2 separate regions of the Homo sapiens genome follow, and region 1 is linked to region 2. The links come from fine-mapping of genetic effects on gene expression. A gene starts in region 2. The other region holds a variant in brackets. All regions are shown on one strand. Distances are from middle to middle.

Region 1 (16,913 bases), 460 kb before region 2:
TCTTTTGTTTTGTTTTGTTTTTGTTTTTATTCCCTATTCAATTTATTATTATTATTATTATACTTTAAGTTTTAGGGTATATGTGCACAATGTACAGGTTAGTTACATATGTATACATGTGCCATGCTGGTGTGCTGTACCCATTAACTCGTCATTTAGCATTAGGTATATCTCCTAATGCTATCCCTCCCCCCTCCCCCCACCCCACAACAGTCCCCAGAGTGTGATGTTCCCCTTCCTGTGTCCATGTGTTCTCATTGTTCATTTCCCACCTAAGAGTAAGAACATGGAGTGTTTGGTTTTTTGTCCTTGCGATAGTTTACTGAGAATGATGATTTCCAATTTCTTCCATGTCCCTACAAAGGACATGAACTCATCCTTTTTTATGGCTGCATAGTATTCCATGGTGTATATATGCCACATTTTCTTAATCCAGTCTATCATTGTTGGACATTTGGGTTGGTTCCAAGTCTTTGCTATTGTGAATAGTGCCGCAATAAACATACGTGTGCATGTGTCTTTATAGCAGCATTATTTATAGTCCTTTGGGTATATACCCAGTAATGGGATGGCTGGGTCAAATGGTATTTCTAGTTCTAGATCCCTGAGGAATCACCACACTGACTTCCACAATGGTTGAACTAGTTTACAGTCCCACCAACAGTGTAAAAGTGTTCCTATTTCTCCACATCCTCTCCAGCACCTGTTGTTTCCTGACTTTTTAATGATTGCCATTCTAACTGGTGTGAGATGGTATCTCATTGTGGTTTTGATTTGCATTTCTCTGACGGCCAGTGACGGTGAGCATTTTTTCATGTGTTTTTTGGCTGCATAAATATCTTCTTTTGAGAAGTATCTGTTCATGTCCTTCGCCCACTTTTTGATGGGGTTGTTTTTTTCCTGTAAATTTGTTTGAGTTCTTTGTAGATCCTGGATATTAGCTCTTTGTCAGATGAGTAGGTTGTGAAAATTTTCTCCCATTTTGTAGGTTGCCTGTTCACTCTGATGGTAGTTTCTTTTGCTGTGCAGAAGCTCTTTAGTTTAATTAGATCTCATTTGTCAATTTTAGCTTTTGTTGCCATTGCTTTTGGTGTTTCAGACATGAAGTCCTTGCCCATGCCTATGTCCTGAATGGTAATGCCTAGGTTTTCTTCTAGGGTTTTTATGGTTTTAGGTCTAACGTTTAAGTCTTTAATCCATCCTGAATTAATTTTTGTATAAGGTGTAAGGAAGGGATCCAGTTTCAGCTTTCTACATATGGCTAGCCAGTTTTCCCAGCACCATTTATTAAATAGGGAATCCTTTCCCCATTTCTTGTTTTTCTCAGGTTTGTCAAAGATCAGATAGTTGTAGATATGCAGCATTATTTCTGAGGGCTCTGTTCTGTTCCATTGATCTATATCTCTGTTTTGGTACTAATACCATGCTGTTTTGGTTACTGTAGCCTTGTAGTATAGTTTGAAGTCAGGTAGTGTGATGCCTCCAGCTTTGTTATTTTGGCTTAGGATTGCCTTAGTGATGCAGGCTCTTTTTTGGTTCCATATGAACTTTAAAGTAGTTTTTTCCAATTCTGTGAAGAAAGTCATTGATGGGGATGGCACTGAATCTATAAATTACCTTGGGCAGTAGGGCCATTTTCACGATATTGATTCTTCCTACCCATGAGCATGGAATGTTCTTCCATTTCTTCATATCCTCTTTTATTTCACTGAGCAGTGGTTTGCAGTTCTCCTTGAAGAGGTCCTTCACGTCCCTTGTAAGTTGGATTCCTAGGTATTTTATTCTCTTTGGAGCAATTGTGAATAGGAGTTCACTCATGATTTGGCTCTCTGTTTGTCTGTTATTGGTGTATAAGAATGCTTGTGATTTTTCTATATTGATTTTGTATCCTGAGACTTTGCTGAAGTTCCTTATCAGCTTATGGAGATTTTGGGCTGAGACAATGGGGTTTTCTAGATATACAATGATGTCATCTGCAAACAGGGACAATTTGACTTCCTCTTTTCCTCATTGAATACCCTTTATTTCCTTCTCCTGCTTAATTGCCCTGGCCAGAACTTCCAACACTATGTTGAATAGGAGTTGTGAGAGAGGGCATCCCTGTCTTGTGCCAGTTTTCAAAGGGAATGCTTCCAGTTTTTGCCCATTCAGTATGATATTGACTGTGGGTTTGTCATAGATAGCTCTTATTATTTTGAGATACGTCCCATCAATACCTAATTTATTGAGAGTTTTTAGCATGAAGGGTTGTTGAATTTTGTCAAATGCCTTTTCCACATCTATTGAGATAATCGTGTGGTTTTTGTCTTTGGTTCTGTTTATATGCTGGATTACATTTATTGATTTGCATATATTGAACCAGCCTTGCATCCCAGGGATGAAGCCCACTTGATCATGGTGGATAAGCTTTTTGATGTGCTGCTGGACTCAGTTTGCCAGTATTTTATTGAGGATTTTTGCATCAATGTTCATCAAGGATATTGATCTAAAATTCTCTTTTTTGGTTGTGTCTTTGCCAGGCTTTGGTATCAGGATGATGCTGGCCTCATAAAATGAGTTAGGGAGGATTCCCTCTTTTTCTATTGATTGGAATAGTTTCAGAAGGAATGGTACCAGTTCCTCCTTCTACCTCTGGTAGAATTTGGCTGTGAATCCATCTGGTCCTGGACCCTTTTTGGTTAGTAAGCTATTGATTATTGCCACAATTTCAGGGCCTGTTATTGGTGTATTCAGAGATTCAACTTCTTCCTGGTTTACTCTTGGGAGGGTGTATGTGTCCAGGAATTTATCCATTTCTTCTAGATTTTCTAGTTTATTTGCATAGAGGTGTTTGTAGTATTCTCTGATGGTAGTTTGTAATTCTGTGGGATTGGCGGTGATATCCCCTTTATCATTTTTTATTGCATCGATTTGATTCTTCTCTCTTTTCTTCTTTATTAGTCTTGCTAGCGGTCTATCAATTTTGTTGATCCTTTTAAAAAACAAGCTCCTGGATTCATTAATTTTTTGAAGGGTTTTTTGTGTCTGTATTTCCTTCGGTTCTGCTCTGATTTTAGTTATTTCTTGCCTTCTGCTAGCTTTTGAATGTGTTTGCTCTTGCTTCTCTAGTTCTTTTAATTGTGATGTTAGGGTGTCAATTTTGGATCTTTCCTGCTTTCTCTTGTGGGCATTTAGTGCTATAAATTTCCCTCTACACACTGCTTTGAATGTGTCCCAGAGATTCTGGTATGTTGTGTCTTTGTTCTCATTGGTTTCAAAGAACATCTTTATTTCTGCCTTCATTTCATTATGTACCCAGTAGTCATTCAGGAGCAGGTTGTTCAGTTTCCATGTAGTTGACCGGTTTTGAGTGAGTTTCTTAATCCTGAGTTATAGTTTGATTTCACTGTGGTCTGAGAGACAGTTGGTTATAATCTCTGTTCTTTTACATTTGCTGAGGAGAGCTTTACTTCCAACTATGTGGTCAATTTTGGAATAGGTGTGGTGTGGTGCTGAAAAAAATGTATATTCTGTTGATTTGGGGTGGAGAGTTTTGTAGATGTCTATTAGGTCCACTTGGTGCAGAGCATGAGTTCAATTCCTGGGTATCCTTGTTAACTTTCTGTCTCGTTGCTCTGTCTAATGTTGACAGTGGGGTGTTAAAGTCTCCCATTATTATTGTGTGGGAGTTAAGTCTCTTTGTAGGTCACTCAGGACTTGCTTTATGAATCTGGGTGCTCCTGTATTGGGTGCATATATATTTAGGATAGTTAGCTCTTCCTGTTGAATTGATCCCTTTACCATTATGTAATGGCCTTCTTTGTCTCTTTTGATCTTTGTTGGTTTAAAGTCTGTTTTATCAGAGACTAGGACTGCAACCCCTGCCTTTTTTTGTTTTCCATTTGCTTGGTAGTTCTTCCTCCATCCTTTTATCTTGAGCCTGTGTGTGTCTCTGCACGTGAGATGGGTTTCCTGAATACAGCACACTGATGGGTCTTGACTCTTTATCCAATTTGCCAGTCTGTGTCTTTTAATTGGAGCATTTAGTCCATTTACATTTAAAGTTAATATTGTTAGGTGTGAATTTGATCCTGTCATTATGATGTTAGCTGGTTATTTTGCTCGTTAGTTGATGCAGTTTCTTCCTAGCCTCGATGGTCTTTACAATTTGGCATGATTTTGCAGTGGCTGGTACCAATTGTTCCTTTCCATGTTTAGTGCTTCCTTCAGGAGCTATTGTAGGGCAGGCCTGGTGGTGACAAAATCTCTCAGCATTTGCTTGTCTGCAAAGTATTTTATTTCTCCTTCACTTAGGAAGCTTAGTTTGGCTGGATATGAAATTCTGGGTTGAAAATTCTTTTAAGAATGTTGAATATTGGCCCCTACTCTCTTCTGGCTTGTAGAGTTTCTGCCGGGAGATCCGCTGTTAGTCTGATGGGCTTCCCTTTGTGGGTAACCCAACCTTTCTCTCTGGCTGCCCTTAACATTTTTTCCTTCATTTCAACTTTGATGAATCTGACAATTATGTGTCTTGGAGTTGCTCTTCTCGAGGACTACCTTTGTGGTGTTCTCTGTATTTCCTGAATCTGAATGTTGGCCTGCCTTGCTAGATTGGGGAAGTTCTCCTGGATAATATCCTGCAGAGTGTTTTCCAACTTGGTTCCACTCTCCCCATCACTTTCATGTACACCAATCAGACTTGGATTTGGTCTGTTCACATAGTCCCATATTTCTTGGAGGCTTTATTCGTTTCTTTTTATTCTTTTTTCTCTAAACTTCCCTTCTTGCTTCATTTCATTCATTTCATCTTCCATCACTGATACCCTTTCTTCCAGTTGATCGCATCAGCTCCTGAGGCTTCTGCATTCTTCACATAGTTCTCGAGCCTTGGTTTTCAGCTCCATCAGCTCCTTTAAGCACTTCTCTGTCTTGGTTATTCTAGTTATACATTTGTCTAAATTTTTTTCAAAGTTTTTAACTTCTTTGCCTTTGGTTTGAATTTCCTCCTGTAGCTCGGAGTAGTTTAATCGTCTGAAGCCTTCTTCTCTCAACTCGTCAAAGTCATTCTCCGTCTAGCTTTGTTCTGTTGCTGGTGAGGAACTGCGTTCCTTTGGAGGAGGAGAGGCGCTCTGCTTTTTAGGGTTTCCAGTTTTTCTGCTCTGTCATTTCCCCATCTTTGTGGTTTTATCTACTTTTGGTCTTTGATGATGGTGATGTACAGATGGGTTTTTGGTGTGGATGTCCTTTCTGTTTGTTAGTTTTCCTTCTAACAGACAGGACCCTCAGCTGCAGGTCTGTTGGAGTTTGCTAGAGGTCCACTCCAGACCCTGTTTGCCTGGGTATCAGCAGCAGTGTCTGCAGAACAGTGGATTTTCGTGAACCGCGAATGCTGCTGTCTGATCGTTCCTCTGGAAGTTTTGTCTCAGAGGAGTACCCGGCCATGTGAGTTGTCAGTCTGCCCCTACTGGGGGGTGCCTCCCAGTTAGGCTGCTTGGGGGTCAGGGGTCAGGGACCCACTTGAGGAGGCAGTCTGCCCGTTCTCAGATCTCCAGCTGCGTGCTGGGAGAACCACTGCTCTCTTCAAAGCTGTCAGACAGGGACGTTTAAGTCTGCAGAGGTTACTGCTGTCTTTTTGTTTGTCTGTGCCCTGCCCCCAGAGGTGGAGCCTACAGAGGCAGGTAGGCCTCCTTGAGCTGTGGTGGGCTCCACCCAGTTCGAGTTTCCCGGCTGCTTTGTTTATCTAAGCAAGCCTGGGCAATGGCGGGTGCCCCGCCCCCTCCCCCAGCCTCGCTGCCACCTTACAGTTTGATCTCAGACTGCTGTGCTAGCAATCAGCGAGAGTCTGTGGGCTTAGGACCCTCTGAGCCAGGTGTGGGATATAATCTCCTGGTGAGCCGGTTTTTAAGCCCATTGGAAACGCGTAGTATTAGGGTGGGAGTGACCTGATTTTCCAGGTGCCGTCTGTGACCCCTTTCTTCCACTAGGAAAGGGAACTCTGACCCCTTGCGCTTCCCGAGTGAGGCAATGCCTCTCCCTGCTTTGGCTCGCGCACGGTGCACTGCACCCACTGTCCTGTGCTCACTGTCTGGCACTCCCTAGTGAGATGAACCCGGTATCTCAGATGGAAATGCAGAAATCATCCGTCTTCTGTGTCGCTCACGCTGGGAGCTGTAGACCGGAGCTATTCTTGTTCAGCCATCTTGGCTCCTCCCTGCAATTTTTATCACCCTGATGCGTTCTAATAAGAGTTCACTATGGCCCGTGAGCCAAATCTGGCCCACTGCCTGTTTTTACAAACAAAGTTTTATTGGAACACACACAGTTTAAATAAGGACATGTAAAAATAAACTTACTAAAACAGAATATAAATCTGGAAAAAATTTCAGAGACTGTAAGCATAAAATAGGAACTAGGTAGTTTTTAAAATTTTACATGTTTGGGCCAGGCACAGTGGCTCATGCCTGTAATCCCAGCACTTTGGGAGGCCGAAGCAGGTGAATCACGAGTTCAGGATATCGAGACCATCCTGGCTAACATGGTGAAAACCCGTCTCTACTAAAAAATAGAAAAAAAATTAGCCAGGCGTGGTGGCGGGTGCCTGTAGTCCCAGCTACTCGGGAGGCTGAGGCAGGAGAATGGCATGAACCCAGGAGACAGAGCTTACAGTGAGCCGAGATTGTGCCACTGCACTCCAGCCTGGGTGACAGAGAGAGACTCTGTCTCAAAAAAAAAAAAAAATTTGTATGTTTGCATTTTGATCATTTTTTAGGAGATGGGGGTCTCACTGTGTTGCCCAGGCTGGAATGCAGTGGCTATGCATAAGTACCATCATTGTGTACTACAATCTCAAACTCCTGGCTCAAACAATCCTTCTGCCTTAGCCTCCTGAGTAGCTGGGAGGTACTACAAGTGCATGCCACTGGGCCTGGCTACCAATACACCCAAAAGGAAGAAATGGAAATACTTGACTATAGAAAAATTTAATACTTTTTGTGTGGTAAGAAACACCACACCCACAGTCAAATGCCAATTGTGAAAAAATATTTGTAATATATATGATGGAAAAAGAGGTTAGTAGACATAATTTACAAAAAGCTGCTGTAAATCAATATGAGAAAGATAACCCAATGGAGAAGTGAACAAGTGCTATGAAAAAGCAATTAATCATAAGAGAAAACCCAGAGGTTAATAAACATGAGATGTTTCACCTCCCTAAAAAGCAGGAAAATGCAAATTAAAGTAATATACATGTATCACTTCTTGTTCATCACAATGGCAAAAATTAACAAGAATGAGAACCTAGTTCTGGCATTTCTTTATTCATGCATTCTTCTATTTAACACATATTTATTAAGTGCCTTACATGAGCCAGGCATGATTCCAGGTGTTGAGGATACAGCAGTGAACAAGAGACAAAAACCTCAGTCCTTGATCGAGACCATCCCGGCTAAAACGGTGAAACCCCGTCTCTACTAAAAATACAAAAAATTAGCCGGGCGTAGTGGCGGGCGCCTGTAGTCCCAGCTACTTGGGAGGCTGAGGCAGGAGAATGGCGTGAACCCGGGAGGCGGAGCTTGCAGTGAGCCGAGATCCCGCCACTGCACTCCAGCCTGGGCGACAGAGCGAGACTCCGTCTCAAAAAAAAAAAAAAAAAAAAAAAACCTCAGTCCTTATGGAGCTTGCAGTTAACTGGGGAAAGTGGCGAAGAAGGTACTCATATTGCTAATGAAAATAGGAAGTGTTATAGCCTTTTGGAAAGGAACTTAATATTTATTAAAATAAACACATAATCAGCTTGAATTCTAACAGTAGACTTGAAGAGATTTCCATCATGTATAGCTGAGTGACAAAAAGCAAGACTCTGGAATGTATATGATTGATTATCACATGGAAAAAAAAAAAAGCAATGACAGTCTCCTCCCCACCACCAAAGCATAGGTCTACATTTATATACATCATTGATGTTAAAACCACCATCTAAGGTGTGAAAACACATGCATGAAACTGTTTACATTGATCAATTGAGGAGAAGTGGAATGGGGAAGCAAAAATCTCAAAAAGACTCAGCATCTACTCTAGAATTTCACATGTGATATCCAATTTATCTAAACACTTCTATATCTGATTTTTTTTTTACTTTCAAGTTTTAAATTCTACTTTCTTTTAGAGTTTTAGTCATTGCTGGTAGATGAAAACTTTTCTTAAAAAAAGTTTTTTACTCATCTATAATAGTTGTACACTAAAATTTTAGGGGTAAAGGTGGTATTTTGATACTTGCATGCAATATGTAATGATCAAATCAGGGTAATTGAGGTATCCATCACCTCAGCTCAAACATCTTTTTATGTTGGGAGCATTACAATTATTCTCTTCTAGCTATTTGGAAGTATACAGTACATTTTTCTTAACCATAATTTAAATATCTGAGGTTCTATATCAATGAGAATTGATGTTCATAGTTAAGCATCTCGGAGTAGAAACTCTACTGGCTATTATCTTTTTTCTTTCTACTTGAATGTTTTTTGAAACATTTTAATAAAAGTCATAAGCATTGATTATGTATGTTCCATATCATAAAAGTATACAGTAAGATGAAGATAATATAAATGTCAAAAATGTAGAGTAGAGTTGGGCAGTTTGGGGGGTAACATAAGGACTTAAATTCCCATCTTTCATAGTTAGGAGTCAGTAGACAATGCCCAAAGGTGTTAATTCAAAATACAGAGTTAAATCATAACTTATTGCTATGTAACCGTCAGAAAATATAAAACCAGAAATAGTTAAAAGAAGTTATCCCTGACATATAACAGAACTGACGTTTGGGTGGGCAGAATTGGTATTTATCTTCTATTGTAAATTGTTTTGTACTATTATATTTTTTTATCAGAAAAAAAAAATTGAAAATGTAATCAGTTACCAGCCAGATAACCTCGAGCAAGTTACCTCTCAATGTCCCAGCCCCCTGCCTGTAAATGGGAAAATAGCAGCCATTTCATAGAGTTGTTGTGAGAATGTATGTGAATTGTTGACCACAATGCTTATGTCA[T/C]AGTAAATACTCAATACATTGGGGCCACTAGTTTGATTATAATTTAAGAGTTGTAAGTTGGTTCCCCTTTTTAGAGCCCCAGTATTTTCTCCTTATCCTCAACTCTACTCTCAAGCAATTAAGAGCTCTAGTTGAGGGGGGTTTTATTTCATTATCACCAAAAACAGACGACTAGGTATATGTGAAAATGTTAATCATGAATGTGTGGATTTCTTTTTATTTCTTTTTATTTTTTATTGAGACGGAGTCTCTCTCTGTCGCCCAGGCTGGAGAGCGGTGGCGCAATCGCGGCTCAGTGCAAGCTCCGCCTGCCGGGTTCACGCCATTCTCCTGCCTCAGCCTCTCCGAGTAGCTGGGACTACAGGCACCCGCCACCACACCAGGCTAATTTTTTTTGTATTTTTAGTAGAGATGGGGTTTCACCGTGGTCTCGATCTCCTGACTTCGTGATCTGCCCGCCTCGGCCTCCCAGAGTGCTGGGATTACAAGTGTGAGCCACCGCGCCTGGCCGAATGTGTGGATTTCTGACAGGCACATGGTAGTCCTCACATGCTATCTGGAGACCTGCTCTATCTGCTTCTGGCAATGTGAGGGTTCCTCTCCACTATAAGAAACTCAGATGATATGTGGCATATGTGATTTATGATATGTGGTCAAAAAAGGATTGATTTGGAAAAATGTCTACTATATGTTATATGAAAAAATTTAGGACAATATGTATAGTCTGGATTTTTAAATTAAAATAGAAATATAAGGACCCTTATATGTGTATATACATATTTCCTGTAAGCATAGAAAGATTAATTAAAATCAAGAGTTAATTTTATATCACATACTTTCATATAGCTAAATTATTACAAGAAGTGTGTAATAGTTTTATTATTAGAAAGCGCAGTGGCCCACAGCACTCTTTTGAAAGGAAACGTATAGATAAGTGGTCAGGTTTGGGTATGTGTACTCAAGGAGGAAATGTGGGTCAGTGGCTCACAGATAAGGAGCTCAAAAATTTACTCAGAGTTCTTTATTTCCCATGAAATACAGTATTGGTACCAGTTCAGTGCCAATAAAAGTTAATTTGTGAAAAAGAACTATTACTCATTTTGCAACTAAAATTATTTTCCAGATTAAGTCTGTTGCTTCTGTTCTTACCATTGGTAAATCACCTGTTAAGTGTACCAAGCCATGCAAAGACATTTCCTACTGGAACTATTAGCATGCATGTTGCCTAGGAAAGGTCAGTGGAAACATTCTTCATCATTTGAAACGTTACTGTAGGAACCAGTAAGAATACTCTGCCTGAATTATGGAAAACTCTTTCTAGACTTCAAAGGGCTTTTATAGCTCTACTTCTACAGAATCCCCAGTGTTTCTAAGTTGATGAAGTGATCCAAAGTCTGGAGGCTGAGACCATAGAGGTACCTTTGCAAATAAAAGGGTCTTGGCAGGGAGTCATGGGGGAGGCATGTTAAAATCTAAGAGGGCCATGAGAGAGAAATAATCTGCCACTGTCTCCAGGCTACACTCATTTTCTCCACGCATAACCTAGGGTTTCCTCTTTCGGACAACAAGAATGCCAAATGGGAATGCCACATTGAATTTGGTGGTCTTTGGAAGGTGGATGGAAGTGGAAAATGAAGATAATGAGAGGGGAGAAGACCCCTGGAAAAGAGTAATTGGGAAATCACCTACCTTTCTAAGAGTGGAGAGTAGATGCACCATTTAAAAACTCCAGGATATAACCTAGGATTTACAATTGCTATGTCATGATGGTGTCCCTTGGGGGATCCCTTTACCGTAATAACTAGCAAGATTAAAAAAGTATTAGTAAGGTGTTTAGACATTCCGCAATGTATACATATATCAAAATATCATATTTTATGCTATAAACATATAGAATTATGTTAATTATAAAACGAAATAAATTGAGGAATAGACATGCAATGAAATACTGTCAAGCAATAAAAATGAACAACAATTATTCTAAGTGAAGTAACTCAGGAATGGGAAACCAAATGTCTTATGTTGTCACATATAAGTGGGAGGTAAGTTATGAGAATGCAAAGGCATAAGAATGCAATGGACTTTGGGGACTTGCGGGGGAAGGTTGGGAGAGGGTGAGGGATAAAAGACTAAATATCACGTAAAATGTTCACCGCTTGGGTGACGGGTGCACTATGAGCTCAGAAATTACAAATAGAGAACTTATCCATGTAAGCAACATTGTAATAAAATTGTAATAATTTTGTTTTTCTCTATACTTTTCCCATCTAAGTATGAACTGCTAAACACTGTAGCTTAGCTTTCCAGGTGTTTAATCTTTACATAAATGAAATTATTCTTTACATAATTGAGATTAAGAATAATCTCACTGAAAATCTGGAAAGCCTAGCTATAGTGTATAGCAGCTCATATTTAGGTGGGAAAAGTGTAGAGAAAAGCAAGAAAATTATTACCACAAAAGTCAAGTATCAGTTATCCATGGTGGGGAGGGGAAGGTTGTTTTGAGTGTCAAGGAGTAGATGTGGGGGTAGGTAGGGAAGTTATTAGTAAAATAAACGGATTACAGGCGTGAGCCACCACACCTGGCCAATACTTTTTTCTTCCACAACCAAACATAATTTAGAAAACTTAGGAGGAGAAGGAAAGCCTAGTGTTTACCCATATTTTTCCTTACTCTCTTCCTTCTTCATTCCCAATAATCTAGTCCCCCCAAAACCTGAGAACTCAGGATAACCACTAATGTAGTCCAGGCCAAAAGCCAGCTTGAGACTCAGGAAGAATCAATGTTTCAGCTGAGTTCAAAGCCAGGAAAACAGCACAACAAAACACAATGTTCCATTTCAAAGGCCATCAATCAGGAAAACATCCTCTCTTACTCAGAGGTCAGCCCTTTTGTTCTAGTCAGACTATCAAGTAATTGGATGAGGCCCACCCACATTAGGGAAAACAATCTGCTTTACTCAGGCTCCCAACTCAAATGGTAATCTCATTCCAGTCTGAAATATTTGAGGCCAAAGAAAAATACCCAGATAACTCATCACCATGTTGTTCTTTATTCCCATATTCCCTAATGGCCAGCTTATTTTCTCTACCTTTCAGCATTTTCTTGTTTGTCTTACACTGTTTCCAGAGATTTCAGTTGCACTTATCAGGAGGAATAGGGAAAAATATACTTACTCCATCTTTCCAAAAGCAAATATAATTTGAGTTTTGAAGTTAATCTTTTTATCTCAGACACTGAGGGAAAATAATTCAATCACTGGTTGGTCAGAGAGATCATCAACACTAAAAATTCCTCCATTGATTTCACCAAAAAGGTTCTTAGTCTAAAACCCCCAAAACCAATCTCAGGTCACTTTTTCTGTTTTCAAATCTGAGTCATGCTTTTCAGAAAACTTCAGTTTTGTTATTTAAAATGAAACCTCCTTGAGGTCAAGGGCTACTTTTGTATTTCCATGGTTATTCAAAACATACTCGGGACATACTCTCTTTCCAGAGCTAGACTGAGAAAGATCCAAGAACAAGAAGAGCAGGTAGGAGTTTAATAATAATAGCATGGCTAAGGCTAAATACCAAAAATTAGGCCAGATGATTTTTGCAGAGCATCAAATAGTATCTCTAATTTTCACAATATCTTATAAACTGGCAACAATCTCCTTTTACAACTGTGGAATATTCCAAGAAATTAAGTGATTTCTCCAAAGAAACATAGCTTAGGAATAGCAAGGCCGCCAGTTGATTCTAGGATCCAAGGTTGCTCTTCCCTTTACATTATAAAAATATGGAAAGGAAAAGGAGTGGCTGGGCACAAAAATTATGGCAGAAGAACTGGCAGGACTTATTTACTGCTTAGCTTGGGGTGTAATGAAAGAGAATGAACCAAATACAACTTTGGAGTTAAGGTTCTTTGCAGAAAAATGATGGCTTCTTTCAATTACTAATCAGGAAGAGATTTAATAGCAGGAATCAGTGCTTAGGAAAGTATAGGGCAGGCAAAAGAGTAGAAGCTAGCCTAGGTCTCCAGAAATACTTTCCAGATCCCAGTTCTGACCTGCTGGGGACTTACTACTACAGAGACTATCACTGGAATTACTGAGTTCAAAAGTTTCACATGGATTTTTGACTGTGTGTTGGATTATTTCCCTTAACACCTGTATTGTTCAAGGATCAAAACCGTACTGGCATTTTAGTCTTTATATGAAGTTAGTTCCTGGGAAGGGATTAGGTAATTAGTGCCTTATTTTCTGTCCAAAAGCGAAAGACAATTCCTTTTGGAAGGTAAAATGGCTTTTCCCAGAAAACTGAGGCAGCACGAATACAACTAATGGAAAAATACAGTGAGAGTTTCGGAGTGAAGATTTTGTAAACAGACGATATTAAAATTTTGTTATACCTAGTGATTTCTATCAACCTAAATTTCTAAAAATCAAAATATGTAATGGTATCAAATTAAATAATACAAAGAGCTAAAATTGAGAAGCTGTAGTCTCCCCATCCCTCTCTATCCTACACCCACTCCGTATCATGTATGAATTGAAAGTGGAATAACCAAACAATTAATTGTTAATATAATACCAACTAGTAGTTTGGAGATAAGTGCAGGGTTTATTCAGGGGTCCAGGGTTACTATCCCCAACTGATCCATACACCAGGGAGAATGTTGCAACTTCATGATCATGTGGATTCACTTTTCACGCATTTTTTCAATTGTTTGTAGTAGCCCTGTCCCTGAAAACTCCCTTCTGAAGCAGCCTCTGGCTCCTGTCTGTACCTGCTGCTTTCTAGGCTCACTGCATAACCATCGTCCTAGGAATCCCCGCTCCTGGCCGTTTTGGGTTGGAGCTATACAGTTTTCTTAAACTGTGCTTTCTTCCTTCCCTCCTGCATTTTGAATACATCTTTAAATGACTTTTGAGGAAAGGCTAAATTTTCTGTCATTGCTTGTCTGAAAATGGCTTTATTCATGCTCTTCCTTGATTGATAAAGTCATTTTGTCCCCTTAGAATGCACTGCTCTGTAACGTCAGAGAATCAGCATAGGCAGTTAGCCAAAAACTACTCTCGATTAATTTCTGAGACGCTTCCATCCAGAGGGCTGATTGATACGCTTTGAGTGTGTCTATGGTTAGATGTGTCTATGGGTTATAGCTTTTTCCTATTATAGTACATCTTATTAATAGCAAATTTGCCTTCTTAATAGCAAAAGTCACTGTTATGATTTCTATTGTTACGGTTTACTTTTAATTTGATTTTGAGGTCTTTCTCTCAAGAGTGACCATAAACCAAGATAACCACTTTCTAGGAGAGCCCTGACTAGGAGAAAGTTAGATTCGGGTGTATCAGGCAGGTGAGACAAAATGAGGAAGTAAAACCAAATGCATGAAACACAAGAAGGTTATTACTTACAGATCACATAGAGGTTAGGGGTGTCAACAGGAGGCTGACGGGAAGGCTAGAGGTGGCAGGGAGCTCAACCAACGGGTGGGGAGCAAGAGACAGAGAGAAGAGCTGTGGGGCCAGGTCTTTATTAAGGTGCACGGGTGTTAGCCCTTACACTTTCCTCAGGGGTTGTGAATTTTTTACTTTAAAGAAAACACTTGTGAATTGGGGAACTTGTTTACAAGACTCTGGTGTTAACCATTAAGTTTTATCACGGCAGCACCTGTGGAATATGTTGGGTTTGGTTCAATGAGATGAGGAAAAAACGGGCTGTATTGCAAACAACCACACAGGGAGGGAAAGTTTTAACTGGGCCAAAGGTGACAGTATATGACTGGGCTTCAAATAACTTATGGCAGTCCTAAAAATGGGTGCTGAGGCAGCACTTTATTAAACAAATTGATGACAATCCACCTCTGGGTGCCCTGGCATGATATTTTAAATGTAAGACAGTTGTAGCTTGAGTGGTGAAGATATTGACTGCAAGGAGAATAATATCATTCCCAAGAAAGTAAGCATTCAGTATGGCAGTTATGTTGTTGGTTATGAACTAATAATTGAGCAAAGTATATGTAAATATTAGTGGTATTGTGTCTAGCCAAGGGGAAGGAGTGGTTGTGGTTGGAGATGCAAGTCAAGAGGCTGTGGTAGAAAGCTGGATGGGGTTACAGTAGGAGAAGGCACCACAGAGTAGTCAGTCTTCTCCCCAGGGGGCCAAGGGGTTGTTTAATATGAGATAGGTGCCTCCTGGGGAAAGCAATAATCATCATTAATTTAGTAACCTCTATCAGGTTTTCCTTTAGGCATGGAAGTGTAGCGGTGTATTTTAGAAGAGAACAAGGACTATACCAGGATCACGGGCTAAGCAGACAGTGAGTTCAGAAAGAACATTTTAAACGTGTCAATTTTGTGCCTTAGGACAGGCAGCCCATGGGTGTTGCTGAGTGGAGACTTTAGTGTAAGAGGTGAAGTCTCCAGCACAGGGGGCAAAGTCATCTCCAACAATAAGGTCTTGGGATGGTCTTGCAATGTCATCTTAGGCAATGACAGCTGAAGCATTATTTTGGGCCCTTGCAAGCTTGTGTGGGATTGTAGGACTGGGGTATCCTTTTAAGTGAGTACCTACTTAAGTTGATGTAGGCCTCTGGATTGCAAATCAGTATAAATGCCCAAACCAATAGTGATAAGGCCATCAACAGAATGGTGTGCAGCTGCATCTGACAGGGTGTTTTTTGTTTGTTTGTTTGTTTGTTTGTTTTGAGCATGTGGAAGTTTAGATGTAAATGGGTTATCTATCAGATGAGCAAATGCCTGGCCTATAGGAAAATCTATTATTAATGAGTCCCAGGAAAGTATGTGCCTTCCATCTGGCCTCCAGCCCTTGTGGAATGGGGGCAAGATTGAAAATTTATAAAGATAGGCCAAGACCTGGATAAAATAAACTTTTGGGTGTTGTGAGGCGAGAGATTCCCAGATTTTTTTTTTTTTTAAATTTTGAAAGGTACAAGTTTTAGGTAATGACCCAAGGGTTTATAACGAAAGTGAAGATGAGACCAGGACATCCAGTACTAAGAGAGCTCTCTTAGGTTTGGCTAAATGTGTTTTTTTGGGTCCCATTCTTTATTAGGGACATGACGGCTAAGGGATAGAAAGTGGCAGTATTCCACTAAGCTCATCACATATGATAGTTAAGAGTGCCACATGCATGCATAGTCTACAAACTCTTGTTACTGTTCACTCAGTTTATCCTAAGGGGCTTTCCAGATAGTCAAGAGGTCAGGGGGAGGAATGACTTTCCCCAGTACTCTGGCATCTGGCAAGAAACTGGGGACAAGGGAAGCCAACTCCTTCAGGTGGAATATACCAGAGGCCCCAGGTTTGGTTCCATCCTGTATTGAGGCCTCAGTAGCCATGCTGAGCTTGTGGGGCGCTGTTTCTATAACCTAATGCATAATGAGCACCTGGGTATAGAGTGTCACAGGCTCGAGGTCAACAAGAATCTGTATTTTTAGTAGAGGGCAGTGGGTAGACAGTCATTTATTGTTTTAATGGTGTATACCCTGAGGCCAAAAGAGGCAGATTTTTGCATCAGAGGCTCTAGAGCAACTTATAGCCATCAGAAGTGGTTTGGAGATCTTGGGAAGCATGAGAAGAGGTTGCCAAAGCCTCAGAATTAATCTGAGGTTCTCAAGTGCAGAGAAGGAGAAGGGAAATTAATGAGGGCATTAATAGGAGTGCCTGCTGATTTTAATTTGTAAATGGTAAATACGTTGCCTTCAGAACCCAAAAAGTAAGAAAAGATATTGACTTGTATGTCCTTAAAGAGTGTATCATATGAACCTCATTGGAGGAGGACAGCATTGACATAATGCTGTAACTGTGCTCCTGGAGATGATGGATGTAATTAAGAACTTGTCTGCAGAGACTGTGCATGATGACCAAACTGTTGA
Region 2 (16,913 bases):
TACTTAATACCACAGAACTGTACCCTTAAAATGCTTAAGATGGCAAATTTTATGTTATGTGTATTTGCTACAGAAGAATTAAAATTGAAAAATATAAATATGACTAAAATTAATAAAGCAAGTTAGAATTTCCATGAGGCATTAAGAAAAAAATTAGATGATTATAGCAGCAAGATTGCCCAGGTAAATAATACGAAAAGGTAAGTCAGTGTATCAGGAAAGACAGAAGGGACTTTGCCTTGCATACAACATACTATGTTAATGTAATATTTGCAGCAACAGCTATGTTCCAGAAGACTTTCTAAAGTTCTGGAGTCTGGGGCAACAAAACAGTGAAGAACTGGTGCACCAACTTGGTATAGATGAAATCCAACAATTTTACAAACATTTACTAGTCAGATAATATAAACCTGGCACTATTCTAGGACCCCCCCCCATATCTGCAAAGTATGGTAAAAATTGTTAATTCAAAGAAAAATTAAAATCTGTAATCACCAACCAAACAAATAAGAGTCGCGTCTAATTGATACGATACTCTTCAAAAATAGTAACCAGTGAAAGAAACAAAATGCTGGAGTGAAGCAGAGAGGGTCATTACTGCCTGGCTCCACAGAGCCCCTTTCCTTCAAACCCCTCCATAACCCTCCAGAGGTTTTATTTTGAGTTGACAAAATTCTGAGAATTATCAATGATGTGACACATAGAGAAAAGAAAACTCAGTAGGCAGATCATTATTTTCTTCCTAAATGCAATGGAGACAAGTGACGCCAGGGAAGAGCACTCTAGAGCTGACTCTTTAAGAATGGAAGGAGGCTCCCAGGCCACCCAGAGATCAAATTATAATGGGGTCTCCTGCAGGAGAAGTATAGACTCTCCAACCAGGGAATTAACATGGAACAAGGCATTGCACAAAAATCTCAGAGGAAAGAGCAGAGACAAGTTATTCAGACTGCAGGGCATCTTGGTCAAGTCCTGTGCTCCCTCTGTCACTCCCTCAGGCTAAGAAAGTAAAGCTGAACACAAAATTCTTAGCCCTCAGACGAGGGGAAATAAATCTCAGATATTGTTGGAACACAAGTAGTCACTCCCACTCTGTCTGCCCAGAGCCATGCAAACAACATCAAGATGGAGAAAATGGCCCAGAGACTATGCAAATATATTAGATACTGTATTAGTCAGAGTTTTCCAGAGAAACAGAACCAACAGGATGTGTGTGGAGAAAGAGGGATTGATTTTAAGAAACTGGCTCACAAATTGTGGAGGCTGGCAAATCTAAAATGCACACAGCTGTCTGGCAGGCTGAAAATTCCAGCAAGAAGTTGATGTCTTCAGGTCTTAAGTCCCAAGGCAGTCTGGAAACAGAATTCCTTCATCCTCAAGGGACCTCAGTCTTTTTCTCTTAAGACCCTCAACTGATTGGATGAAGCCCACCCACATCATGGAAGGTAATGACTTTCCGCAAAGTCTACTGATTGAAATATTAATAACATCTAAAAAAAAACTTCACAAGAACATGTAGATGTATATAATCAAATAATTCAGCATCATAGCCTAATCAAAGTGACATAAAAAATTAAGTATCACACACAAACATGAGGGTGCACATACACATATCCATCTAGAATAATAATCTAGAAGAAGAATAATAGTTAACATTCAATGCATGTGCTAGGTACTGTTTTTTGTTTGTTTGTTTGTCTGTTTGTTTGTTTTTGAGATGAAGTTTTGCTTTTGTTGCCCAGGCTGGAGTGCAATGGCTTAATCTCGGCTCACTGCAACCTCTGTCTCCTGGGTTCAAGCGATTTTCCTGCCTCAGCCTCCTGAGTAGCTGGGATTGCAGGTGCCCACCACCATGCCCAGCTAATTTTTGTATATTTCATAGAGACAGGGTTTCACTGAGTTGACCAAGCTGGTCTTGAACTTCTGACCTCGGGTGATCCACCTGCCTCGGCCTCCCAAAGTGTGGGGATTACAGGTGTGAGCCACCGCGCCTGGCCCTTAGGTACTGTTCTTTACGTTTCACATGTATTTACTCATTTAATCCCCATAGCAAAACTTATGAGGTAGATAATGTTTATTTTTGTATTTAACAGACTAGAAAACTGAGGCAGAGAGTGCTTGAGTAACTTATGCAAGACTACATGCTAGCAAATGGCTAAGCCGGTAAAGATTGGCAGAGTTTGCTCAAAACTCATGCATTTTACCACTGAACTAGAAGAAAATGCAACTCAGGAAATAGAATGCAATTCCCCCGCTTCACTCTAAGAAGGCCTTAAGAACATTAGTTCAATAAAATAAGAGCATACTAATAGAATAATTTAAAAATTAAATGAGATGATAAAGGAAATGACCAGTCTAGAGAACAAATTTTGGACTATGCAACACGATTATGGAAATGATAACTAAATTAGAAAATGCAAGGCACAGAATAGACAAAAGTCGTTGCTGGCAGAAAAGAACTGAGATAATCTGAATGAATGCAGATAAAAAAGACAAAGAATTAAAGCAAATTTGGGAGAATATTATAGACATGAAATATAATATATATTATAGTATTATATATATGAGAATCCAAAGAAAATTTTCATAATATTATTGAAGTAAAAATTCCACTTCAAGATATATTCAAAGACATTATACAATAGAATTTCTCTAAAATGAAGGATAATAATTTAATATATTAAAGAGCAAGTCCCTACTTATACAAAACAAAAAAAGTTCATGATACTCCAAGAAAATTAGAGGTAGTATGCTCAATAATATTTCTTAGCTGAACTATTGAATGTCAAGGATAAAGAAAAAATTCTTCAGATATTGAAACAGAAAAGCAGGGAAAAACTGTATCACTTCAGAATTATCAATAACACTCAATTCCACAAGACAATAAAGCAATGTCCATAAAGTTCTGTGAAAATTTAATCTAAAAATATTATAATTAATCAAGATGTCATTTGAGCATAGAAACCACTAACAGACATTCACTAGCATGAAAGAACTCAGGAAATGCAATACACATTATTTCTTCTTGGAGAAGAAAAATTTTCTTGACAATGACATCCAGTCAAATAAAAGATGATTAAAAATAAATTTAAGAATGGCAAAGTGAGATTAAAAGAACTGGTAATGAACAAGGAATGTATTTAAACATACAGTGAAAGTAGACAACTAATAAAAGTATGGTAGCAATACTGAATGTGAATGTTATAAACTTGAACAATGTAAACTAATTATGTAACTGCAAAAATTGGGAAATAGGGGAAAGGGAAAGTGGGAAGAAATTTAAGAGTGCTAACATCCTCATCTTTCAAAATTAGGGAATTGATATTATATAAATATATATTTTTAATGTTACAAATTAATACTAGCCTCTACATGTTTATCTCTAAACCTTGCTTTTTTTAACTTTATTTAGGTTTGAGAGTACATGTGGAGGTTTGTTACATAGGTAAACACGTGTCACGGTGGTTTGTTGTACCTATTATTTCATCACCCACATATTAAGCCCTGTACCCAGTAGTTTTCTGCTCCTCTCCCTCCTCCCACCCTCCCCCCTCAAGCAGACACCAGTGTCTGTTATTTCCTTCTTTGTGTTCATAAGTTTGTATCATTTAGCTCCCTCTTATAAATGAGAATCTGTGGTATTTGGTTTTCTGTTCCTGCATTAGTTTGCTAAGGATAATGACCTCCAGCTCCATCCAGATTCCCACAAAAGACATGATCTTGTTCTTTTCTATGGCTACATAGTATTCCATGGTGTGTATGTACTACATTTTCTTTATCCGATCTGTCATTGATGTCCATTTAGGTTGATTGCATATCTTTGCTATTGTCAACAGTGCTGCAATGAACCTCTTGGCATATACCCAAATGAATAAACCCTGCTTTTTTAGCACTAGTCAGTTCTTTTATGAAAAAAAATCCTGTGGTGAACAAACATTCTTCACTTTAGTTTTGTTTTTCTTCTACTGATATCAAATAAAATATAAATAACTATCTTTTGTTAAAAATAGTTACTAGGGTCTTATCCTATTTTCATAACTTTTATTTGTCTATTGCTCTATCCTTCTAATTGTATAAAATGCATACAAAGTACAATGCATACATTGTACGAAATGCATAAAATATTTTTATAAAAACAATCAGGTGACTTTTTCCCTTTAAAAATTGTAAGCAGGCTGGGCGTGGTGGCTCACATCTGTAATCCCAGCATTTTGGGAGGCCAAGGGGGGCGGATCACTTGAAGTCAGGAGTTCTAGACCAGCCTGGCCAACATGGTGAAGCCCCATCTCTACTAAAAATACAAAAATTTGCCAGGCATGTTGGTGGATGCCTGTAATCCCAGCTACTCGGGAGGCTGAGGAGAATTGCTTGAACCCTGGAGGCACAGATTGCAGTGAGCTGAGATCATGCCACTGCACTCCAACCTGAAAGACAGAGCAAGACTCTGTCTCAAAAAACAATAATAATTATACATAAATAAGTAAATATTATAAGCAGTATACCAAGATGTTAACAGTGGTTCCTTTTGAGTGATGAGAAAATGGACAATAGTAATTTTTTTTTTACTTTTGTCCGGGTTTTTAATTTATGTTGCAAATTTAATTTGCAACATAAAAAATGAGGTATTAATGAATTACTTGTTCACCAGTCTACTAATCATGAATTTAGCATGCATTAAACATATGTACTTTATTAATATGTATTTTTTCATAAACTTATCCTAGGAAATAAAACAGGTAATAAAGAATGCAAATATCTCAACCTCTACAATGTTCAAAGGGAAAGTGTGCAAAACGTGCATGTCTTAGTAGGATCCCTAAGTTAGCAATTAATGAATGATGTGGGGAATGTGGGAAATGTATTCTTGGATATACCTTTTATCTCATTATTGTTTACTACTCAATTCTGTGAAATAACCTCTATTTTATGTACTATGGCACATTTACAACATACAGCATCTGAATAAAATTATACAACTGGTTATACAGAACTAGCAGTTTAGATATTATAAAGTAGCTGTCTTGTTACCTCATAAACCATAAACCACATTAGTATCTGAGAAATTAAAAAAATTTCTAAAATGTCCCACTTCAGGTATAGAATTTTACAAGATTTAGGGGGAAATTATCACATCGTTTCTTATATTAAAATAACAACAATAGCAATATAAGCCTAAACCAAAAACCTAAAAAGAAATGGTTACTAGACATAAGAGAGCAGAGAGATAGGGACTGAAGGTACACTTCTTTCAATACATAATGTTTTTTGTTTGTTTGTTTGTTTTTGAGACAGATTCTAGCTCTGTTGCCCAGGCTGAGTGCAGTGGCATCTTGGCTCGCTGCAAACTCCACCTCTCGCGTTCAAGCAATTAACCTGCCTCAGCCTCCCAAGTAGCTGGGATTACAGGCGCCCGCCATCACGCCCAGCTAATTTTTGTATTTTTAGTAGACACGGGGTTTCACTGTATTGGCCAGGCTGGTCTCAAACTCATCACCTTGTGATCCACCCACCCCGGCCTCCCAAAGTGCTGGGATTACAAGCGTGAGCCATCACGCCCGGCCACATAATGTTTTTAATATTTGAGTTTAGAACCATGTATTTTACATAATTCTAAACTTACTTTTAAAAAATGATCCCTATAACTTGAGCAGAATGAGAAAATGAATCTACCTGTGTAAGAGTTGGTAGCATAACCATACAAAGAACTTGTAAAGAGACTTTATAACACAGTAATATGACCGAACATACCTGGTGTGATATGCTCTAAAGATTAAAAAAGAACAAAACTGCAAACAAAAACTCTTAATCTGTTTCCAGTAATGATATTGTTGATCATATTGGCACCATGTATTGGGATAAAGCTAATGAATAATCATGTTGATGTCATTTGGAGTATGGAAAAAGAGATGCAAAAGGTTAATTAAAAACTCTATGAGATCCTGATTTGAAAAGAAAGTCGGTATACATTCATGATTATAGATACACACACACACACACACACAGAGAGACACACACACACACATTGTTCTCAGCTCTGTCTGCTGAAAAGGTCTTGAAGCAATGAAGAACTCACTAACAACGTGTAAAAATAAAGCCCAGTTTATGATCTCTAATGGTCATTTTCAATTCTAAAATTAGGGCCCCTTAAAGGCAGATTTCGGGTCAGAAGCAAAACGTATATAACTTTGACCCGAAACATTTTGTCATACCAAAAACAAGAAAAAGCCATCAAAGCCTATTGGCATAAAGTCTCAGGAGTCACTTTGAAGAGTCACCTGCAGGCCAAGAATAGGTCTGAACTTCAATTAGAAGAATGCCTGCCATGGATTGAAATATAGTTGGCCCCCTGTATCCATGGGTTCTGCATCTATAGATTTAACCAAACATAGGTCATAAATATTTAGAAAAAAATGCATCCGTGCTAAACACATACAGACTTTTTCCCTTTGTGTTATTCCCCACATAATACAGTATAACAACTATTTACACTGCCTTTATATTATATTAAGTATCATAAGTAATCTAGAGATTATTTAAAATATATGAGACGATGTGCATAGGTTATATTCAAATACCACACCATTTTGCATCAGGGACTTGAGCATCCACAGGTTTTGATACCTACAGGAGGTCCTACAGCCAATCCCCTATGCATACTGAGTGATGACTGTATGTCAAATGTGTTTAAATCCAGGAAGTCATAATAATCCTAATTTTTTAAAGTGGGTCTTATTAAAAGGTGTTAATTTACCAATTCATTATTTTCAAAATTGGTAGAGAGACATAATCAAGCATTTATCCCATCTTTCCTATATTAATAATGCTTTAGAATAACTAGTTGCTGAGAAACATGAAAGAAACAAGTCTGCCTACCAGACAAATAATGAATGATAAAATCAACATAGCACTGTTTTGAAAATACTAATGAATTAATAGATCTAGAAAATGATAGTCAATGGCTGCTAACAACTCAAAAGGAGAAACAACCACATATCATGTGCTTCCTACCAGAACAACACAACACATGTGAAGTAGTCTCATCAAAAAAAAAAAAAAAGAAAAAGAAAAGGAAAAAGAAAAAAATGTACAGAGGATCAAACTTCTAGATACAACTACCAATTAACAGGAAATAATCGAAACAGAGAAACAAGTTAAAAGGCAATCAGCAAAGTCCAGAATGCGGTACACTCTCCTGACCTGTCTTATCAATAAACTACAATAGAGAGAGAAAGAGAGAGCGAATTACAGATTCAGGGAGATTTAAGAAACATGCAGTAGAAGGAATGTTCGTGTCCCTCCAAAATGCATGTGTTGAAATCGTAACCCCTAAGGTTATGGTATTAGGAAGTGGGGTCTTTGGAAGATAATTAGATCATGATGGTGCAGCTCTTATGAATGAGATCAGTGCCCCGATAAAAGGGACTTTGAAGAGCTCTCTCATTCTTTCCTGCCATGTGAGGATATAACAAGGAGACAATATGACAGTCTGTAACCTGGAAGAGGGCCTTAAACACAACCAGACCATGCTGACACCACGATCTCAGACTTCCAACCTTCGAAACTGTGAGAAATAAATTTCTGTTGTTTACGTCACCCAGACCATGGTACTTTCTTACAGCAGCCTGAACTAACAAAACCAATTGTAATGTATGGACTTCATTATAATTCTGATTTCAAGTAGTAAACTGTGTGGGCCGGAATTAGGAAGCAATGAGAAATATTTGAATGCTAACTGGATATTTAATGTAAGGAATTATTTTATGTTGTTTTAGGTGGGATAATGGCGTGGATATGTTTTTATTTTTTTTAATTCCTACCTTTATACAGACATGCTGAAATATTTACAGTTGAAATGATTAACTGTCTGGGATTTTTTTCAAAATAATCTCAGTGCAGAGGAAACTGGAAGGGTTGTAGATGAAACTTGGAAGTGGATGTTTCTCTCTACTTTTGGATATGCTTATAATTTTCCATATAAAAGTTCTGAAAACGGAAAATAAAATGCTCACATTGTGAGGCTAAGGCCAAAAGAAATCAGAGATGCATGAGAATTTCCAAATTCAGGATTATTTAAGAACAACATAGAGAAAAAAATACTTCTGGTTTGAGTTGCAAAAATTTATTTCTTTTATGCAATATACTAAAAAATCATAATTAATTGAAAAATATAATACTTCATATGTAAAGGGGAGAAAACTACTCCACCAAAGATGTCACATCTTTTAATTCATTTGGAGATCAAAGAAATGTGTCTGCCAGGCAACCAAGGGCTCATGGAAAGGTGTGGTTTCTGTACAAATGCTATTTGTCTAATATTTTGTGCTGTTAATGACTGTCCCATTAGCATCTTCACTACACTTACTTTCATAGAAAGGAGAAACATGATTTATAGAGCCCTTTAGTGACAAGGGTGAGGATCCTACACACTATGTTGCTGGTTTCCTAGTCTTCAGCAAGAAAGTGTAGGAGAGAAGCAAAAAACGTCCTGTTCAACCCCTGCTCCTGGATGTGGCAAGGAAGAGGAGTTACCCGGCTTGAAACAAAAGAAATCCTAAGTCTGACACACAATGTCATGTTTAAATTCCCCTTTCTCCAAAATGTAAAATAAATCTGCTTCCATCTTCTAAAATACTATGGGACTAAACATCCTTTTGTTATGCTAAGGAAAAGCCAGTATTCGCGTTGATTTAGAAGAGGGATGTTCTGGTTATAGAACGATGCTGTGTCTCAGAAACACTTAAATACTATTAAGCTAGAAATAGAAGGGAAAATAATGCTTCCCCGCATCTCCCCTCAAGTGTAGTCCTCTTTTTTTAGCCTGATTTCCGACGAAATGTCTGAATGCCTACAGTTATTTGGCCATCCTGAAAAGTGCAACTTATCCTGACGTCTCGAGGGACGGAAAAGTTACCGAAGTCCAAGGAATGAGTCACTTTGCTCAAATTTGATGAGTAATATCAGGTGTCATGAAACCCAGTTTCGAAGGAGAGGGGAGGGGGCGTCAGATCTGCAGACGGAAGCAGGCCGCTCCGGATTGGATGGCGAGACCTCGATTTTCCTAAAATTGCGTCATTTAGAACCCAATTGGGTCCAGATGTTATGGGCATCGACGAGTTACCGTCTCGGAAACTCTCAATCACGCAAGCGAAAGGAGAGGAGGCGGCTAATTAAATATTGAGCAGAAAGTCGCGTGGGGAGAATGTCACGTGGGTCTGGAGGCTCAAGGAGGCTGGGATAAATACCGCAAGGCACTGAGCAGGCGAAAGAGCGCGCTCGGACCTCCTTCCCGGCGGCAGCTACCGAGAGTGCGGAGCGACCAGCGTGCGCTCGGAGGAACCAGAGAAACTCAGCACCCCGCGGGACTGTCCGTCGCAGTAAGTGCCCGCGCGGTGCTGGCCGCGGCTGCCCGGGTCACCCCGCCCCGCATCTGTCCGAGGTGGCCGCGCTGGGGGCGCCGCTGCGGCGAGGGACAGTGGGGAGACTGGCTTCCCAAACGCCAACGCCCCTCTTTGTCTTCCACCTGCAGAGTTTCCTGGTTTGAAGGTGTGGGTTGGTGGGTTAGGGGGCTGGGGGAGTTGGGATTCAGGGAGAAGAGGGTTGGAGAATCTTTGGGACGCGATTCTCTCGCCTAACCGGTACAGGTGAGACTTCAGTCCTTATGTTTTTGATCTTGGTTCATCCGTTGTGGGGCAGAAAATTCTGTTGCTTTAACTCTTGGATAACCACCCCTAATAGATACATTATTTCTCTCTTTGGTGTCTTCTCCTCCTACCCCTTCCCAGAAATCCAACATGAAAATCCTCGTGGCCTTGGCAGTCTTTTTTCTTGTCTCCACTCAGCTGTTTGCAGAAGAAATAGGAGCCAATGATGATCTGAATTACTGGTCCGACTGGTACGACAGCGACCAGATCAAGGTGAGGCCCCTTCCCAGGACGGCCCGCACCCTTCTTCCTGGGCTCGGGAGCTGTCACCTTCCCACGCAACAGCACCCTAGTTAACGTGGCACGCACCGCCACCACGGAAAGAGGCAGCGGTTGCGTGCGAGAGGATGGAAAGGGGCACTATTTCCCGGGTTCCCCACGGGATTTTGTGCCCACGATTCAAGTTTCTTCCCGAGGGCTGCACCGTCCGGCCCAGGAACTCCCTGCAGTAGGGATGCCCTCCCGGATGAGCCCGAGATCCTCACAAGGCGGGAAATCTCGTAAGATTTCATCCCCCAGGACCTGGGATTTCGGGGGCTCCGGTCCAGCTGCACTGCCCTAGCGTCTGGGCACGGGCAGAGGAGGGCGCCTGGGTCGCGGGCAGCAGCGGGCACACGCGCGAGCTGCAGGGGGATTGGAGGGCCGGAGGCTGGAGGGAAGTTAATTTCCTGCCTTCACGTTTGTTTTGCGGACCTGAGGATGTAGCTTGAAGTCTCCCTTTAGAAACTCGTAGGCTACAGGCGCTGGGGAGCGCGCCTCGGAAAAACGGTGAAAGTCGTCTGTAAAGCGTTGTCACCCTTCCCCACCGGAGCCCCAGCCCCAGATCCCACACACCTGTGTGCATTTAGGGCGGTGAGGACTCTACAAAGCCGGCACCGAGACAAGACAAAGTCAGGTGGCGGCGCAGCAGATGAGGGAAGGTCCCCGGGCTGGGAGGAAAGAGCGGAAAGCGCTCGAAGCTTGAAGACGCCGAGCCAGCTGCTAACTCGCCCTGGCAGGCTTGCGGGGGGCGGGACGCGAGTTCGGCGGGGAGGGGCGCAGAGAGGCAGCGCCTCGGGAGGGACCCCGCTCAGCCCGAGCGTGGGGAAGGCCGCCTCCCCACGCCTCGGGGCCGGAGTACAGCGGGGGGAAGGGCTCGGGTTGCTGGGTGCCTCGCTCTGGTTGCCTTACACGCCCTTTGTCCGTGCTTTTGTCTCCCAGGAGGAACTGCCGGAGCCCTTTGAGCATCTTCTGCAGAGAATCGCCCGGAGACCCAAGCCTCAGCAGTTCTTTGGATTAATGGGCAAACGGGATGCTGGTGAGATAGGCGACCGTCCCTAGGTGTCTTGGGCAGCCCGCCCTGTCTGCTCACTCCTTCCTGGAGTACCCCAGGGTCTCTCGCTCTGAATAGAGATTTCCACTCCAAGAGGGGTGTAATTCCCCAGGCGCGACATTGGCCCACACCGCACTAAGGCACGCACGGGCCCGCGGGGGGAGGGAAAGATCTGGTTCGCATGCCTCACTGTATTCGAGTGAAGCGCTCCCTTGACTAAAGATCCAAACTGACAAAGGGAAGGCACGGGCCTCCAGGGGTAGTACTGCGGATGATCCAAGTGCATGTGGAAGAGGATTTTATAGCATTCCCTGAGGTGAGAGTACATTTGTCTTGGGATAGAAATATCGTTTCCTTGAATTCATCGCACGGTCAGTGGAACATGTAGTTAATGACAATTCGTCTCTTGTCAGATTCCTCAATTGAAAAACAAGTGGCCCTGTTAAAGGCTCTTTATGGTAAACATTCCTATAAATCTTTATTTTACTATTGTGAAAGCACATGTAGGAAAGTGAAATAAAATCTTTTATGGGCTGAAATACAAGATCTGGGTCATGCCTGTTTAATAAAGAGATGGATTTGCGCACTCTCTCTCGGTTTCTCTCTCTCTCTGTCACTCTCTCTGTCTCTCTCTCTCTGTCACTCTCTCTCAGTCTCTCTCTCTCTCTTTCTCTCTCTCTCTCAGTGGGTGGCCAGCCTTGAAGGTGGGATGTGTTACAGTCTTATAGTTAATAAGAGGCCTCAGAAGTCTCATAGTCCTAGGTTTGAATCCCATAGAAGGCACTTAATAAAAATTCCATTTGTTTGTTTAAATATTTAGTTTTTATGATTAATAATTTGTTTAGCATTTATGGTTCTGCTTTATTCCTCAGGATAATATATAGATAGAAAATGTTACATATTTTGAGAATCAAATTATTTTATAAAAGATATAATGTAGCATCTTTAAAAACAAATCTATATGTGTTTGCTAATTTTATCTTTCTTCTAGGACATGGCCAGATCTCTCACAAAAGTAAGTTCAAAATTATTTTGACATTTATCAAATTTAAATGTAAAATTATATTGAATTTCACTTTATTTATCTTACCTTATTTTCTGTCATGACTCTAGGGCTTAATATGTTTAATGAAGACAATATAAGAATGGGGGAGATTCATATTACATCCAGAATATGGTTGTTTAGACATATTGTACTTAGCAAAGAGATGCATTATATTAAAAAAGAAAAAAATGTCTTTTAAGTCCCTTCAATTGTTAGTTTTAGAGAAGAATTTCAATCCTAGGATTAGAAATCTACCATACATATTTCTTCCCAGCCACCCACCCCCTAAGCTTACTTTCACTGTAAACAAACAAACAAACAAACACGAAACCCCCACAAGCATTTATAGGCATCTCCTAACTCATTTTAGTATGCTTGGTCCAATAATGATGTCATTTATTAGGGTCATCCAGCAGCCAATTAAATGGAATGAGTGAGTGAACATGAGTAGAGAATCCATACTAAAAATGAAGACGGTAGAGATGCAGTTTTTTAATCCCCTAATTGAATGGGAAAACTCGATCAGTAAAACATTTCTTAGGGCAGCAAAGATGGCAAAATTGTGGTATGTGAAGGTCATTAAATTTGTTTCTCAGTTAATGGAACCGGAGTTGACAAGAAGTGGAAAGGGTCTATCTTCATCGTATTGTCCACTCACCTATTGTACCCTGTCATGGATTTGGTTCATTGGGTGGCAGAGCAGGCCACATTAACGTAGCAGCTCTATTCTCAACTATTAAAATAAAAACCAAGAGAAATTCTCTCACTAGCATTAAAATAGTAACCTTTCCAAAGAGTTCATCTTTGAAAAATAAATAGTATTCATATTTACTTTCTAAGGATTTGACTTTGAAGAGAATTATATATAAAAATTCTATGTAATAAAAAATGTACTCTGTTCATGTGAAAACTAATAAACTTTTCTGAAAGGAGTATCTTTTAATATCCAATAAAATAAAAACAGTGACCTTTTAGAAGATTATAATCATCAAGGAAAGGAATCTGGTTTAATTAAGGTCTACTTGCTGAGAAGTACAACTTATTAATAACACAAGGAATTATGCTTGGATATTTCACTCTCACACAAATGTGAAATTGACTTCCTAAAAAATCAAACCTAGCTCAAATAACAATATTTTATATAAAATATTTTAGACCCTTACATAACAGATAAAATATATGAATAGAGAGTGCTTGCTAATATTAAATATAGAATTAAGAAAAGTGGTTTCATTGTATTGTTTTAGTGTAATTTATAAAACTTTTAAGGAATCTTTATTTCTTCAGTCTCACCAAAACTTGAAGTAGATAGATATTTATTATACAGACATATATTCAGAAGCTTGCTTTGTTCTGGTTATAATAGTTTGTTTCCTCAAAGATATACATATTAAAATACCCCTAAATGTATTTTTCCAGGACATAAAACAGATTCCTTTGTTGGACTAATGGGCAAAAGAGCTTTAAATTCTGGTATGTATGAAATTATGACTGAAAATAGACAGTATCTCAAATCTATTTCTATTTTTTCTAAGACATAGTTTTAAAATATTAAAAAGGAGTGGTAGATATAAAAATGAGTATTATGGTGGAAAAATTTAATTGTTGTACTTGTAACCACAAATGGATTTATAGCTGGTTAAGCTAATACTACCACAGTATCTGTCTATTTCTCTCCAATCACCATTCTTACCAGTGTCTGCCCCATTTAATCATTACCAACCTGAATCTTTGGGTTAGTGCTATATTCTTTCCTATAGATCTGTTAAATAAGCCGTGTTTAACCTTACTGAACTAAGGGGGAGTGGGGAGTGCAGGGAAGAATGAGGGTGATTTTCACTTGTTATCAAAGTAATTTGAAAGTTTTACAAGACATTACATTTGGCGATCTTCCAATACAAAAATAAATTCACAAAACAAATTCTTTATGCAAATTAATCACTTTTTATGAAGTTGTAGAAATTCAAAATCTAAACATCCTGATGGATGTTGGAGAGGACAAAAGTGATACGGTTTATTCCAGTACTTTCAAAAAGGAACACAATTAAATATCCTTGAGTGTTATAAATTGGTTCTGGCTATAAACTCCTTAGAGAGAAAGGATGCCACAATTCTCATTTTAATTCTGAACAACTTTTTCGTATGATATAAAGGCTGCAGGTTTCCTTCTCTTCAATTTCCATCTTCTTTGTAAATACCACGTACATATATCTGAAAACCATTATTAGTTAACTCATTCATCACACTGATTTCAATGTAAATAACCCCTAGATCATTTTAATAGAAGCTCACTTTTTGTTAAGACCTTATAGCTCTTACCTCTAGGGCTTCTTGGAAAAGCTATTCAAATTCTATTTTGCCTTCAGTGAAAATAGAATTAAAATACTAAATACGTTATTAATTATAAAGTAATCAGCAGCTGTCTTACCCATTTAGAATATTTCCAGTTTCTAGACAATCTATAAGATGTGCTGGCTTAATCCTTAATTATCTGGATCCTAGGAAAAATAATTATCCTAGTGTTTTTTAATGGAGATTTTTTTCTTTATTGTGAAATGTAAGACTTGGGTACATTAAATAAAACCACTTTCTGTGGGGCAAAAATCAAAACGCGCAATAGAAAAAAAAAGTTAACACAATCTGGGCTACGGCAGAAGCCAGAGAATATATTCATATAATTGAAAAGTTCTAAGTGTTTCATAATTGACCTTTTGATACAAAATTTCCAATAAATCTGGAATTTGAAGTTCTTGGTGAAGTCCACAGGACTTCCTAGTGTTCTTATTGGGTCCCCACTTTCTATTTAGACACTACCTTTGCATCTTCTCACCAGTCATTTTGGGCTGCCGAAGTGTAAAAGTGTAAGAAATTATCAATGTGCCTTAATGAAAAACTTGTAATTGTTTTATTAATATGTATTATCTTCCCACTTTTGGAAATGAAATATAAATTTAAACCACAATGGCTTTTATTTGTACCAATACATACTAGTCCTCACTTAATTGTAGTTTTCTTGATAATCATATTAGTCATCAACTTTCCATTTCCAGAATTGATATAGGTTTCAGAACATGCTTAACTTTACAAATGTAGATATTGTACAAGTTAGAACAGATTAAATACAATTAAATGTACTTAAAATAATAACATAATTTTAAGTAGTGATAAAAATCACTGTAGTGAATCAGGATCAATTTATAACTAAATCTTTGTTCCTCCATTTTAGTTAAGGAAATATAAATAGGTGAAATGTGGAAAAAAATGTGATATGATCCACAGTCAATCAGGGATCTTTTTATGTACCTCATTGAGGCAAGGTTATCATAGCCTTAATCTATAGCCCTCTGATCTTTACCCACTCATGGTCAGGGACCCCTTTGACAATCTGATAAATCTAGATAGATGCCCTTTCCCAGAGAAACCCTCATCAGCTCATACACTCAAAAATTTATATCAGGCTTCAGAGGGTTCAAAGACCAGGTAAGAAACTCTGCTTCCATGTAAGAGGACATTATGTTCCAGCTAAATCACTGTCTGTCTTTAGTTGGTTTACATTAGCTTTCATCTAATTTCTCTGAGGAATAGAGTCATGTTACCTAAAGCTTGTCAGAGACTGAACTTGGGCCATTCATCCTGTTCCTAATATAATCAAACCAGAATGAGAAATAAACTGTTTCCTTCCCTCACGCCTGTCCAGTGTTGGCTCAGACTGTTCTGCCTCACAAGTGCATACTTAATTGATGTAAAATATGCAGCTTATTGTTAACCGCACTTAAAGGATAGCTGGGTGTTTAAGACCAGTATTAAAAGAGGGAAGTGATAATACTGGTGCCTTTACCTGTCTTCTCTGTCAGCAAATCTTCTCACTGAGGAAACTGTTTAGAGTAGCACTTATTATTCCTACAGATCCTTCACAGATCTTTCTACTCTTTCTGTTTACATTCAGTATTTTATACAGGCCATACTGAATTTCAAAAAGCATAGTAGTTCCACTATACCATACGTCTAAGTCTATAAGGTATTCGTTAAGGATGAAAAATATCCCAAAATACTTTTATTGCAACAGTCTGATTTTTACCCCTTTGTGGTTACAGATCCCTTTGAAATTATATATAATAAATATAATATAATATAATATACAATTTTGGCATTTTTTTGTCCAGATAATCAATGTATTTAAATTACTTGCTAGCTATATGTTAAATACCTTTGGAAGCAATAATTAATGCTTCACAGGCCATTAAGGTGCTAGTGAAAAGTTAAACAGTATGGTATTTAGATGGCTCAACTGACTTACCTATGGTAAATGGGCTGTTTTTAGTCTTGAGGGCAGTCCATCACTGGGAGGTATCCACAAGGTAGGAAGAGACCCCTACACAATTAGATGCCCCTTGAACAAAGATCAGCAAACTTTTCCTGAAAAGAAACAGATTATAAATATTTTAGGCTTTGTGAGCCATGTAATCTCTGTTGCAACTACCCAAATCTGTTATTTTAGGCCAAAGCAGCCATAGACAATATGTAAATGAATGAGTGTGTCTGTATTCCTATAAACCTCTTTACAAGAACAAATGGTATTCTAGATTTGGCCCATGGTCTCTGCTAGAATAAAAGTCCCACATTTGGTTTTTATCCTACTAGTATTCCTGGTTATTTTAGGCATTGTCCTTTCTAGAATTCACTATGGGTATCTGCCACTGCTTGAGAAAGCTGCTGAGAATCAACACTGCAATATATTGTGGAAATATGCTTTGGGGGCACCAAGTATATGATGAATGATGAATGAAACCGAGTTCTGTGGTTAGATCATTTCCAATCAGAATAGAGACTGAGGCAGGATTGGAAGATGTGCAGA

Direction of the effects. Alleles are on the strand shown, and positions count from the first base shown. SD is a standard deviation of normalised expression in the study named.
In carriers of allele T in region 1, the expression in subcutaneous fat of the gene that starts at base 9,265 in region 2 tends to be lower than with C alone (moderate effect, 0.48 SD a copy in GTEx).

What was found. PIP is the estimated chance that this variant, and not a neighbour inherited with it, causes the effect.
Region 1: its variant is fine-mapped to the expression of TAC1 in subcutaneous fat (GTEx, PIP 0.91).

Annotation. Positions count from the first base shown.
Region 1 is chr7:97,258,027-97,274,939 of GRCh38, forward strand. It overlaps LOC124901704 (a long non-coding RNA gene), which reads right to left and starts at 14,561. Exons shown (of 3, transcript XR_007060445.1): 1 at 14,431-14,561. RefSeq lists an enhancer at 11,623-12,143. The variant T/C (reference allele first, on the strand shown) is at 9,026.
Region 2 is chr7:97,722,822-97,739,734 of GRCh38, forward strand. TAC1 (tachykinin precursor 1) reads left to right here and starts at 9,265. Exons shown (of 7, transcript NM_003182.3): 1 at 9,265-9,374; 2 at 9,783-9,914; 3 at 10,902-10,998; 4 at 11,427-11,471; 5 at 12,005-12,028; 6 at 13,478-13,531. The coding sequence starts at 9,792. RefSeq lists an enhancer at 8,424-9,623.